Linked DNA regions of Homo sapiens. The protein of the gene in region 4 purifies or fractionates together with the protein of the main gene of each other region. This does not show direct contact. Each region holds a gene or a part of one and is shown on either strand. Other genes may lie near its edges.

Region 1 (3,996 bases), on a different chromosome or scaffold from region 4:
GATTGGGCAAAAGCATCGAAAGAGTGTGACATGAAAGAGACCTACGTGCATGTACTCACATAAGTAAGCTAGAGCTCTTGGGGAGAAAGCAGGCAACAGAAAAAGTCATCATCTGGGAGCTGAAAACTACAAACAAAGACCAACCCAGTAATTTCAAGTTTTGGCCTGCTTAACAGTATGATGGGAAGTTCTACCCTTGCCGTTTTGACATTAGGGAAACTAACACTCTTCCTCCAAGGGGCAAGTCTTCCTCAGTCCCCTGAACAATTAGAGGTCTAAAGGCACAGTTCCTTTCTGTATCTTTCTGATTTTAATTTCCAACAGAGCTTTTAGATGCAGAAGATTATTACATGTTGTCAGATGAGACAATGTGTTAAAAGACACGTGTGTCTATCTTTAGGATTGGGGCTGTGGCATCAAAGTAAGCAAGTATTTTTTCCCCATTCAAAGGAACAGAAGACTTGCCCTGGGTGCCAGGCAAATCCTTGATGTTAAATTCCTGTCCCTGGCAGCAAGGGACCCGCCCTATCCTCTGCCTGACACATTTTGCTTCTTTACTCCCTTTTTGCTTGACACACCTGCCTCTCCCCAATCAAGTAAACATGATTTCTCCTTCTTTCAACCCCAATAGGGTGCTGCTTGGTTCATGTTTTGCCTTTAGTTTTGTGTCTGTTTTTGTCTTTTCCTCATTGTTAGATTTCAGTCCAGCTTGCTTTACATGTGGGGCACTATATTTTGTAGTGTAGAGCTGACATATAGTAGATACTCAATACTCAGTTTGATAAAACTCCTTGGCTTTTTTACCCTTCTCCCTTTCATATTTTAGAACAAAGCTCATAGACCCCTTAGTTGACACTATATTTGCTATAACACAGCCATTAAATTTTCTAGAATTCTTTTTTATTTGTTTTATTCAAATGGCTTCTCATGATTGGGCTTTCCTCTTGCTTGCTCTATCTGCCCACTTTGGAAATTGCTTTGTCAGCTCCACCGACTTTCTAAGCTGGGCCCAATCCCTAAATGGCCACAAGTATAAGGTCGCCTTTGGAGTTGAATAGTCTGAAGAGACATCAGTGCAAATCAAGGGCATAGGCATTGGAATCAGATTATCTTGTCTGGAATTATGCAGTCAAGGCTGTGTGACGTTGAGCACATTACCAAACCTCTCTGGGCTTTTTTTTAACCCAACTGTAAGGTAAAAATAATACCTACCTTATTGTTTGTTCGCTGCCTTGCAAGCCTTTCAAGGAGGTGAGACAGGGATGAAGCCCTTTCTCAGACTCAACATTTTAGTCATCTGCCCTCTAATCCTTTCCTTTTGCTTATTTGTCAAACTTGTACCTCCTTTAGGTGAGGACAAATACTTATATGTTGGCCATTTTATCCTCTCTACTCTATGACTTAGTGTAAAAAATCTCTCTCTCTTAGTCCTTACAATCATGAGACAATGAACTCCATTCTCATGACCATGTTTTAATGGGAGGAGGGTGGTAGAAGGAGGACACTTGCTTCCCTTTTGTGAGGTTTTTAAATTATATATTTATTATAACCTGTTCAAGAGTGGGTGAGAACAGTGTGGATTTTAAAAGGAACATTTCTGTGTCAGCAAAATGTCCCTGTGTTTGGGAGAGACTTTTGGAGGATTTCCAGGGGAAGCAAAGTAGTATTTACTGACAGTCCAAATGCAGTTTGGGCCTCTAACCTCTGGCCTCTCTCAATTTGTTTTGCAGTAAAAAGTCAGAGTACACAGCAAGGGTTCCAAATTAAGAGGAAGCAAAACGCTGCCCAGATCCTGAGAAACCTGGAGAAAATCAACCTTAGTAGTTTCAACTCATACATTGTCTTGTTTGATTTTGTTCTTTGTTTTTTATCCTCTTTAAGCACAGATGCGTGTTGAAGTCTAAGGTGTTCTGTCATCACACTCTCTTTACTAGAATAAGTGTGCCCAGGCAGAAAAAAAAGTGTATTCAATGTTGCTGGCATGTGTGGATTCACAGCTCGTGGCTGTAAGGAAATCTGGGGGTTTCATAAATCCATTAAAATCCTTTTAGAGTTGCCAACCCGCAGTAGGATTTTCTTTCTTTTTTTGTTCTTTTTTTCCCCTTCCAAGTGAGGCACATAAAGGATTCTACCTAGTCCATGAATGAACAGTTTCATAGAAACATTAAAACCCTAACATAACATGAATTATTCACAAAGTTGCATGAAACAATAATATTTAGGTTATCCAAATTATAAGAAGCCTGAAGGTTACCACCAAACTATTAAATTTTTCTAGGCATTAATTACATAACTAAACAAATGTATTTCTTAAAATTCTCTCTTCCTCTACATACACACAGTAACATCAAAAACAACAAGAGCAACTAAACCTCAATGAGTAGCTACAATGCAGAAAGAGTCCATTTCAATTCAAAGAAAAATATTTTCTCCTAAAAAATATGAGAAAACATTCTGTAGGTTCAAATGAATTTAGCCTTGGCTGAGATCACGAGCCACAAAAGTAAGTGGATATGTGACTATAATTATACAATGTTGGAAAATGGTGAGAGGACTTTAAAATATGCATTTCCTGGCCAGATTGTATCAGAAAACTGAACTAACTAGACAATAACACCTTACAAATTTTGAAGTCCAAAATTTTCAACTAAATTCCAGGAATTCAAAGAAAGACTTTTTTCCTTACCTGTCCCTTTGAGAAAGGAGCTCCAATAATCCCTATGGTTCTGGACTTGGCGCTCATGCTCTGACACTTCTCTTTGCTGCACTTGAGCTCTCCAGTCAGTCAACCCTCAGTGACAGAGGGCGCATCTTTTTTTTCCATTTATACTTGGGTTGAATAAACAACCTTTATCTAATGAGGACAGCTGGCTCCACCCACTAAACCAAAGAATGACAGTCAACAGTCTTGCAATTTTTCATACATGGAGTAACTATATGGTTACTCCATGTATGAAGTAACTATATGGGGTTACTTCATACATGGAGTAACCTAACTCTGAGTCTAGGTCTCTAATCAAGTGACAATTATTCATGTTCTCACTTCACACCCTTTTAAAAAGCCAGCCAGATGACATTAACCTGACTTCAACAACTGACAAGTTTCACAACTACAGAAGAAGTCCTATTGTTCTGGCTCAGCGAACTCAGGGCAAGGCCCTTTCCTCCTCCAGATCTCTGAAGACGTCCTTGTAGAAGAAGGGCCGGGCTTGGCAAGATCGTCTGTCACATCCCTTCCAGCCCTAAAATCCTGAGTTGAGATTTCACACATGAGGGTAAATGGTTAATCCATGAGACACATTTCATAAACTTTTAGGGTATAATATAATAAAGAGTATATAACTTCCTTTTTTGATGATTACTTTAAAAAATTAGTTACTTGATTGGTAACCCAGAGAGGTTACCATTTTTGAAGTATGGTGTACAGGAAAATAATTGTAGAATCATATCATAATCAAAGTATAGAAATAAAAATAGCTAACATTGAGTTTTTACCATGTGTCCGATGCAGTTCTGTTTCAAAATACCATATTTATATTTATACCAATTTTATGTGAAGTCTCATCATTGGTGCCATTATACTGATGAATAAACTGAAGCTCAGACCCGTTGCCAACATAGGCTGTAGAAGAAAAGTCGGGATTTAGTCTCTGCCATTCTGAATCCACTTAACCGTCGAGCTTATAGTCTAAATGCTGGGAAGGTGTCAACCTCTATGCCCCTGAGCTACCATTTGTCACCATACAAAAGTATGAATTTAAAATAAAGGCACCTTAAAGATCCTTCCGACTTTAAAATTATGTAATTGTAATTTAAAGGGAAAATTCACTTAGTAGAAACTAATTTCTTTTTCCTATTGGTGGGAAAGAACATTTTGGAATTTAAATTCCATGAGGTCAGAGAATTTTGTCTGCTGTATCCCCAGGGCCTAGAAGAGTGTTGGTGTATAATAGGCACTCAATAAATATTTATTGAATGGATAAATGAGGAAACCAA
Region 2 (3,201 bases), on a different chromosome or scaffold from region 4:
TGGAGCTGAGGGAAATGGAGAGGGGTTAGGAGGAGGCTCAGCCCCCTCCGCCTGCACCCTTCTTGGCCTGGGCGGTGGTCCCAGCTACCTTTTGTCAACTCACCTCTGTCAGAAGTTCCAAGATATGTCCTTTCCTCTTCGTGAACACATCCACCAGGGTCTGGATAAAGCATGAGCCTTTCTGATCATGTCGGTAGGCGATGTATCCTGGGAATTCCAGAGAGGTGGGTTCGGGGGAGCTTCAGAGGGTAGGTAGAGGGGATCCTGGAAGGGCGTGGGTCCTGGAGGAGAGGTTCAGGAGTTGGGAGTGGCAGGAGAGGGGGAAGAGCAGAGGGATCCCTGGGCCAGCTGGGAGCTCATACCCTCTACCGTGGAATAAACGTGCAAGGCATCTGTGTATGTTGGGATGGTTTGTGGGCTGTCTTTGATGACCATCACAATCTCATCTCCACCTACTGTTTCACCGGGGTCCCTTTGTTCTGAAACAACAAGAAGAGGAGGAGGCAAAGTCAGAGAGAAAGGTAAGGAAAGGGGCTGGGCAGGGTGGCTCACACCTGTATTCCCAGTGTTTTGGGGGGCTGAAGCAGGAGGATCACTTGAACCTGGGAGCTTGAGGCTGCAGTGAGCCATGATTGCACCACTACACTCTAGCCTGGGAGACAGAGCGAGATGTCGCCTCTTAAAAAGAAAGGTAAGGGCTGGGCACGGTGGCTCACACCTGTAATCCCAGCACTTTGGGAGGCTGAGGAAGGCAGATCACCTGAGGTCAGGAGTTTGAGACCAGCCTGACCAACATGGTCAAATCCCATCTCTACTAAAAATACAAAAATTAGCCAGGCATGGTGGCTTGCACCTGTAATCCCAGCTACTTGGGAGGCTGAGGCAGAAGAATTGCTTGAACCTGGGAGGTGGGGGTTGCAGTGAGCCAAGATTGTGCCATCGCACTCCAGCCTGGGTGACAGAGCAAGACTCCGTCTAAAAAAAAAAAAAAAAAAAGGATGCTTTTGTGGTATGCCATGTGCAGTGGGGCTTTTTAATTTAATTTAACTTTTTAGAGACAGGGGCTTGCTTTGTTGCCCAGGCTGGAGTGCAATGGTGTAATCATAGCTCACTGCAGCCTCTTAACTCCTGGGCTCAAGTGATCCTCCTACTTCAGCCTCCTGAGTAGCTAGGACCACAGGCCCATGCCACCATGCCCTTGGCTAATCTTTAATATTTTTCATAGAGCTGGGTTCTTGTTACATTGCTCGACGCTAGTCTTGAACTCCTGGCCTCAAAAAATCTTCCCGCCTGGGCCTCCCAAAGTACTGGAATTACAGGCATGAGCCATGGTGCCTGGCTTCAGCTGGGGCTTTGGATCTGGGACTGGCTTGGATAAAAACACAGACTTGGTTGGGCATGGTGGGAGGCTGAGGCAGGAGGATTGCTTGAGCTCAGGAGTTTGAGACCAGCCTGGGCAACATAATCAGACCCTGTCTACAAAAATTAGCCTGACATAGTGGCGGGAGCCTGTAGTCTCAGCTACTCAGGAGGCTGAGGCAGGAGGACGGCTGGAGCCTGGGAGATGGAGATTGCAGTGAGTTGAGATTCCGCCACTGCATTCCAGCCTGGGTGCTGTCTCAAAAAACAAAACAGAAACAACAAACCACAGACTCTGTGCTCTTGGATCTGTCCCCACCTCCTCGACAGGCCTGTATGATGTACACCTTGGGCTTAGCTCGCAGGGCCTGGCAGTTCTTGTTGTTCAGGGCCTCGAAGAGATTCTCCAGCTTGACCATCTCCCCATCTTCTCCCTTGAGGAAGCCTTCCCTCCCGTGAGCCATGAGTACCACGAAGGCACAACTGACGGGATCTTCCCGGGAATCGATGGCCTGCTGGAATTTTTCCAGCTCTTCCTGGAATTGCTGGAGTGAGAGGAAGAACCAGACTCAGCTGGGTCCCCATAGCCTACACTTCCAACCTAGTACCTTTCCCCCAAACAGGCCTGGAGTAGGCACCCCAATACCTCGGCAGTGGGGTCTCTTTTCATGGTGCTTTCGAATCTCAGCTGCCGAAACATGTGTTCCAGAGCATCCAGGTCTTCTTCGGAACCTTCCCGGGCTTTGGTGACACACAGTATTAGGGCCAGGCGGGCACCTGACATATCATATTTCTCCTGGGGCCAAGAGAAGACAGAAATCAGCATGGAGAGGTTCAAGGAGAAGCAGATGTAGTCAAAAGAGGCATGCAGGCTGGGTGTGGTGGCTCATGCCTGTGATCCCAGCACTTTGGGAGGCCGAGGTGGGAGGATTGCTTGAGCCCAAGAGTTCGAGACCAGCCTGGGCAACATAGTGAGACTCTGTCTCTACAAAAAATGAAAAATATAGCTGGGTGTGCTGCTGTGCATCTGTGGTCCCAGCTACTTTGGAGGCTGAAGTGGGAGGATAGCTTGAGCCTGGGAAGTTGAGGCTGCAGTGAACTATGATCTTGTCACTGCACTCCAGCCTGGGCAATAAGTGAGACCCTGTCTCAAAAATGAACAAACAAAACAAGAGAGGCTTGGGCTTAGGGTTGCCAGGTATAATAGAAGATGCTCAGGTACACTTAAATTTCAAATAAAAACCAAATACCTTTTTAGTATAAGTATATCCCAAATATTGCATGGGATATACTTATACTACATAATTATTTGTTGTTGATGTGAAATTCAAATTGAATTGGGTGTCCTTTATTTTTAGTTCCCAAATACAGCAACCCAACCTGGGGTCCAGCTCTTTTCTAGCTTGGTATGAACTTGGGGGAAGTCACTGCTCCCATCTGAGCCTCAGTTTCCAAATATAGACAATGAGTGTGTGTGTGATTTTGAAGATCCCTTCCAGTTGTCGTATTTTGTGGATTTGCAGGTCTCCTCATCCTCCCCAAGAGTGTTCTGAGCATTCCTCTATTACCTCCTCACTTGCAGAGGTCTCAGAGTTTCTGAAGCTAATACTGAGATCCCGTCTGAGGAAGAAGAATATTGGGGGTCAACAGTTCTTTCCAGAACAGAAGCAGCGTACTGAGCACCCCAGTGGTAAGAACTTCATCTTTTAAAAAATCAACATGAAATTGTTTATTGCAGGACTTCTCAGAACCTTTAATGTGTTGAGAAGAACTTGATCTTTGGAGACAGAGGTAGCTGTGTTTGACTGCCCCCACCACCCAACCCAACTTCGGTTCCATCTC
Region 3 (3,544 bases), on a different chromosome or scaffold from region 4:
AAACCACAGTGGTAAAGGGAAAGACGAGTGTGATATTCCTCAACCTCACCAGTAAGCAATATTCGTCAAGACTACATCTATCACTAAACACACACTAGAATCAGAAGAATCCTTGACTCCACAGGAGATTTAACTGAGGCCCCACATTAAGGTTCAGGCTCAGGCATTGCTAGTTTACCCTGAAGAAACCTCATCCTATTGCCACTCTCTAATGGAATTTTCCTCCTAGGAAACACTTCCTAATTTGGAATTTATTTTCTCTAGTGCAATAATTAAGGTAGGAGTGCTTGATGGCTTGTGGACTTGACTATGTAGTCAAACTTAAAAAAAATGGTTAACCCTTGTATAAATCTGTGGTTGAATTTTTATTTATGTTATCTGTGAAACCAACAGGGCATCTGGCACACATTTTAGATTTTTCCCATAGATATGAACATATATTGCATATTTAGTTCTTTTTGAATTTTGCTCGAGCTATATGGAAAAGCAAAACAGAGCAAGGAGAATGATGCCAATTGCCATCGTAAGGCCAGTTACATGCTGGAGATGGACTACAGGCCACTCAGGCACAAAGAAGACTCTGCCTCAAGTTTTAGTTCCTTAGTCCTAATATAAGAGAAAAGTTTATGAATGCTAAGGAGAGCTCTCCCCTAGCAGTGGTGTTTCCATTTATTTTTCTCATTGTGATTTCTCACCTTGCTCCTAGATGACCTGAGCACGAAGTTGTGCGTTATAAATCACATTGTTGGTTTTTTAGTGGTGGGAATTGGATCTAAACCACAATGACTATGAAAAAGTGAGCTGGGGTCCTGACTACTTGCTATATTGCACGGTACTATACTTTGTGATTCGACTTCGAGCTGTGCTAGGGGAGGCGGACCCAATGGTTTGGTTAAAGTGATGGTCAGAGGAACTCCTCATGTGGCCAATGCTGGCTGTCCCTCCCAAGCTGCTCAGGCCAATGCCACCACCACTTATGCCAGCTCCACTCAGGGCACCGCTCCCAGCACCCATGCTGGTGCCAACCAGGCCACTGCTGCCTATGCCACCGCTGATCCCAGTGGTGCCACTAATTCCAGTTACGCCAGCACCAGAAACAACCCTCTCTGTCACAATGACATTGTGGGCATTGGCTAACTCGGGGTGCATACTCAGACTACCTATCATGCCGGAAGTTGGTTGGATTACTCTTTCTGTCACTACCACATTTGAAGACTCTCTAGGATGATGGATAGTCAGAGAGGTGGGTAGACTAGAGCTTGGTGCTATTACCCTTTCTGTCACTATAACATTCGACCCATCTCGCAAGTCAGGCATCTCTAACATTCCATGCAAATCAGCGCCAGAGATTGGGCCGACCACTCTCTCTGTCACTACCACGTTTGATGCTGGTCGGTTATCGTGAACGTGCACAGAGGGCTTCAGAGTGTCAGAGGTGGTGTAAGACTCGGTCACAGTGACATTACCATAGCCCAGAGGATCGAGAATAGGCTTAGGATGCAGTACACCAGGTCCCGAGGGATAGGTGCTCTCAGAAATTACTGTGGTAGTGCCGAAATGTGGGGAGATTGGTGGGTGTCCACTAACAACGGGCTCTGTTTCCTGAGGAAGGCAAACTGGTTCAGTGCTTTGTGGTGGCCAAGAAGGATCAAGGTCTGGATATGATTCTTTTCCTAGGCTGATGTCTGCCAACTTCTTAAATTTAGGTCCCAGGGTATCCAAGAAGCTGTCATCCAGGTCTTCTCCAATGAAGCTACAACAACCCACAGAGCCAGCAGGGGAACCTACACCTTCGATGTCATATATGAGCAAACAGTCATTAGATGGGCGTCCTTCATCTTCATCTGCGTAAGCATATGCTTTCTGAATTTATAGGAGAAAGAGAAAATGAAATTATGAATGCATATTTAACAATAATAGAACAGCCTTTATCATTAGTTTTTCTTCCAGAGCATTTCCAAAGAGGAATGAAATAAAACAAGATTTTAACATACTAGAGATGCTCTAAAAATCATTTTATAATTATTTGAAATAATTTGGTTAGAAATCATTTTAAGTATAATTCTAATACTATGATTTTAAAAATTTACTTAGATGGACTTATTTATAATTGTGTACTTTGGACATAAAACCATACACAAAAAAATCACATGAATTGGTTTCGAGGAGGAGCCAAGATGGCCGAATAGGAACAGCTCTGGTCTACAGCTCCCAGCGTGAGCGACGCAGAAGACGGGTGATTTCTGCATTTCCATCTGAGGTACCGGGTTCATCTCACTAGGGAGTGCCAGACAGTGGGTGCAGGTCAGTGGGTGCGTCCACTGTGCGCGAGCCGAAGCAGGGCGAGGCATTGCCTCACTTGGGAAGCGCAAGGGGTCAGGGAGTTCCCTTTCTGAGTCAAAGAAAGGGGTGACGGACGGCACCTGGAAAATCGGGTCACTCCCACCCGAATACTGCGCTTTTCCGACGGGCTTAAAAAACGGCGCACCACGAGATTATATCCTGCACCTGGCTCGGAGGGTCCTACGCCCACGGAGTCTCGCTGATTGCTAGCACAGCAGTCTGAGATCAAACTGCAAAGCGGCAGTGAGGCTGGGGGAGGGGCGCCCGCCATTGCCCAGGCTTGATTAGGTAAACAAAGCAGACAGGAAGCTCGAACTGGGTGGAGCCCACCACAGCTCAAGGAGGCCTGCCTGCCTCTGTAGGCTCCACCTCTGGGGGCAGGGCACAGACAAACAAAAAGACAGCAGTAACCTCTGCAGACTTAAATGTCCCTGTCTGACAGCTTTGAAGAGAGCAGTGGTTCTCCCAGCACGCAGCTGGAGAACTGAGAACGGGCAGACTGCCTCCTCAAGTGGGTCCCTGACCCCTGACCCCCGAGCAGCCTAACTGGGAGGCACCCCCCAGCAGGGGCACACTGACACCTCACACGGCAGGGTACTCCAACAGACCTGCAGCTGAGGGTCCTCTCTGTTAGAAGGAAAACTAACAAACAGAAAGGACATCCACACCAAAAACCCATCTGTACATCACCATCATCAAAGACCAAAAGTAGATAAAACCACAAAGATGGGGAAAAAACAGAACAGAAAAACTGGAAACTCTAAAAAGCAGAGCACCTCTCCTCCTCCAAAGGAACGCAGTTCCTCACCAGCAACGGAACAAAGCTGGATGGAGAATGACTTTGACAAGCTGAGAGAAGAAGGCTTCAGACGATCAAATTACTCTGAGCTATGGGAGGACATTCAAACCAAAGGCAAAGAAGTTGAAAACTTTGAAAAAAATTTAGAAGAATGTATAACAAGAATAACCAATACAGAGAAGTGCTTAAAGGAGCTGATGGAGCTGAAAACCAAGGCTCGAGAACTACGTGAAGAATGCAGAAGCCTCAGGAGCTGATGTGATCAACCGGAAGAAAGGGTATCAGCAATGGAAGATGAAATGAATGAAATGAAGCGAGAAGGGAAGTTTAGAGAAAAAAGAATAAAAAGAAATGAGCAAAGCCTCCAAGAAATATGGGACTATGTGAAAAGACCAAATCTAC
Region 4 (2,823 bases):
CAGGGGGCTCCTAGCCTTTTCCCTCAGGCCTTCAACCTATAGTTTCAACAGGGCAAGCCTGTCAGATGAGAAAATGTAATTCATAAAGTCCTGCATGGGTTCAAGCCCTCTGCACAGTGGTGGAGACATGGTCCAGTGATACTGACCATGACCAGTGATACTGGTCCATGAGCAGATACAATTTCACAATCTCTCCAACACCCAGGAAGATGAGGGTCTCATCATGGTCAACCCTGCTCTGAGGCTCATCAAAGGGCAGCACAGAAACAGCCCCAACCCTCAAATCTCCATTTTCAGATGCTTCTAACTTGCGTGGGAAAGTTTATTCACAGCATTCTAGAAGGCATGGGGCTCCCAGGCTGGGATTTCACCAGCTCAGTCTGCTTGTTCATGTTCGTGCAGATCTTTCCTCTAGCTGAGAAACAAGAGTAAGAAGAGAGGGATGCAGAAGAGTGCCTGATAGAAAAGCATAAATATGGACCAAACAAACAGACAGAAATTACCACGAAATGCATTCAGAGCTTTATTCATGCCAAAGTTTGGGGACTGTACTAACTCTGGCAGGCTGCCTTGGTAGAGAAGCAAAGCACAGAGGCAAAGTGATGAGGTTCTACATCACTGGCACTAACAGAGAGGGGGCCAGAAGCTGGTGCATGTTCCAGAAGGGGTAGCGGGGCAGTGCATTCTGGAGTTGAGCTGTCGTATGTTTAGCAGCAGCAGTCATCCTCATGGTCACAGCATGCAGGACCTCGGGACCTCATGGGGATAATTCCCAAACAGCAGCACCCAGAGCTGCCACATCCACAGCTGCAGCCACAGCCCCCAGAACCACAGCATCCAGAGCTTCCCGAATTCTCACAGCAGCCAGATGATCCTGTGTTGCAGTTCTGGGGCCGCTGAATCCAGCGTCTCAGGGGACTCACCCCGAAGGTCCGGGGAGCCAGACAGCAGTAGCTGGTGGAACAGGGAGCAGAGCATGGGTCAGTGACACAGTACTGGGAGGTTGAGCCACTTGCAGGAGCTTGAACATAATAGCTCTGGCAAGGAGAAGCACCCTGGACATAGCACGTCTGGGTCTGGCAGGGAGCTGGACTTTTGATGTAGGTCATCTGGCAGGGAGCTGGGCACTTCACGTAGGTTTGGCAGGGAGTTGGGCATTTTACATAGGTTGTCTGGCAGGGAGCTGGGCACTTCACATAGGTTTGGCAGGGTGTTGGGTATTTCACATAGGTCCTCTGGCAGGGAGCTGGGCACTTCACGTAGGTTTGAGTCTGGCATGGAACTTGGTACTTCACATAAGTTTGAGTAGGGCATGGAGCAGGGCCTGTCACACAGACAGTTTGGGTCTGGCATGGAACTGGGCATTTCACAGAGGCACCATTGCTACCCTGCCCAGCCCCTAGTCCCGAACCTTTCACACAAGATGGAGGGAACTGTGGCTGCTTCTGCTGGTCACACATTGTTCTGTGGCTTTGCAAAATCTGAAAAGAAAGGTTTCATTAGAACTGTAAAACCAGGAAGGTTTCTAGGGGAAACCTTCAACATCCCCTTTGAATACAGTGATTTGCAAGCAAGGCTTTCTTGAGAAGGTTGCAGACATCCAGAGGCTGTATACTTGGCAGGAGGTGGATTCAGAGCCAGGGACTCTCAGCTCAGCTTCTGTGCCTGTACCTGGCTATGTGGCTTGGTACAAGTCATCGCTTACCTCTGGGCCTCAGTCTCTATATTGGGAAATGGAGGCTTGAAATGGTGCTGCCTGTGTTTCTACCCAACTCTCCAAGCCTCCTCTCCTCTTTCTTCAGTGTCTGCATTGTGAATTACCCTTTGGAAATTGCTGCTCCCAGATGATTGACCCCTGCCACCAGTTCTCTCCAGGGTGACTTCCCTTCTTCCTTCTGCCCAGACAAGGAATACCCAGCAAAGACAAATTTATGTCCATGGACCCTGAGCCAACATGAGCCTCAAGCTGTGCCCGGTACTGAGCAAAGAACAAGGCTAAATTTGAGCAGGTTTCTACCAGGTGCTCCTTGAACCAGCTGGACTAATCAGTTGGCCTCATTAGCACATAGACCCAAGAGAGGACTGCACAATTGCATTCAGATAAGGGGATGGGGAGCCAGTTCTCTAAAGTCCCTTCTTAAACAGGAATGCCAGCTCATCGTGTCCCCCTCCCTCTCCTCTCATGCCCCAGGCTCCAAGTTTCCCACCAGCATTGCTTTCAGCCTCCTTCAGCAGATTTCCTAAGCATCTAGTCCTCGCTCACCCTTCATCCCACAGCTCTCATCCCACCCCAGCTTCCCCAAAGCTCTGTTTCTCACCATGTCCTTATCCCGTATAGAGACTTACCCTCTTTGCTGATAGGAGCAAGACTGGAAGAAGTCAGTGATCTGAAAAACTAGCAGGTGGGGAGACCTTTTATAGGGCAGCAATGAGGCAATTTAATGGCATCTAAATGAAGCACCAGAGATCACAAGGAGAAGGGATGGTGTTGCATTGGCAAGATTCCTCCCCAGTATGCCTGGCTCCTCAGTCAGAGGCAGGGCATGTCTGTGCTTGACATTGGGTTTTCCCAAACACTAGATAAATGATTCCTGTTCCCTTCCTCAGGAAACAAGTCAGTCTCCTTTTCCTATAAGTTATGAGTGATGCCTATGTGATCTGTCTCTAATGAAGCTGTTTCCAGGTCACTTGAGTCTTCAGGACTTATCCAAGTTATAGTTAGATTCTCAATTTTTCATACACTGTGCCAAAAGCTAAGTGTAGCTCAGAGAATCAAACTAAAATTGAGAATCTAATCTAAAGCTAAGTGTAGCTTTTGGCACA

What was found.
Region 1: the proteins of KPLCE (region 4) and ARG1 purify together in Homo sapiens (affinity purification with mass spectrometry, with the first as the bait; one large-scale study listed by BioGRID). This does not show direct contact.
Region 2: the proteins of KPLCE (region 4) and CASP14 purify together in Homo sapiens (affinity purification with mass spectrometry, with the first as the bait; one large-scale study listed by BioGRID). This does not show direct contact.
Region 3: the proteins of KPLCE (region 4) and DSG1 purify together in Homo sapiens (affinity purification with mass spectrometry, with the first as the bait; one large-scale study listed by BioGRID). This does not show direct contact.

Annotation. Positions count from the first base shown.
Region 1 is NC_000006.12:131,572,030-131,576,025, reverse strand, and holds the start of ARG1 (arginase-1), read right to left. Parts: upstream 2,801-3,996; 5' UTR 2,744-2,800; coding exon 2,687-2,743; intron 2,061-2,686; exon of another isoform or gene 1,734-2,060; coding exon of another isoform or gene 1,731-1,733; intron 1-1,730. UniProt on the Homo sapiens protein: Key element of the urea cycle converting L-arginine to urea and L-ornithine, which is further metabolized into metabolites proline and polyamides that drive collagen synthesis and bioenergetic pathways critical for cell proliferation, respectively; the urea cycle takes place primarily in the liver and, to a lesser extent, in the kidneys.
Region 2 is NC_000019.10:15,052,436-15,055,636, reverse strand, and holds part of CASP14 (caspase-14 precursor), read right to left. Parts: intron 2,156-3,201; coding exon 2,006-2,155; intron 1,905-2,005; coding exon 1,679-1,904; intron 480-1,678; coding exon 363-479; intron 282-362; coding exon of another isoform or gene 208-281; coding exon 104-207; intron 1-103. UniProt on the Homo sapiens protein: Non-apoptotic caspase involved in epidermal differentiation. Is the predominant caspase in epidermal stratum corneum. Seems to play a role in keratinocyte differentiation and is required for cornification.
Region 3 is NC_000018.10:31,352,616-31,356,159, reverse strand, and holds part of DSG1 (desmoglein-1 preproprotein), read right to left. Parts: intron 2,261-3,544; exon of another isoform or gene 2,224-2,260; intron 1,864-2,223; coding exon 814-1,863; 3' UTR 1-813. UniProt on the Homo sapiens protein: Component of intercellular desmosome junctions. Involved in the interaction of plaque proteins and intermediate filaments mediating cell-cell adhesion.
Region 4 is NC_000001.11:152,718,159-152,720,981, reverse strand, and holds KPLCE (protein KPLCE), read right to left. Parts: upstream 1,461-2,823; coding exon 708-1,460; 3' UTR 512-707; downstream 1-511.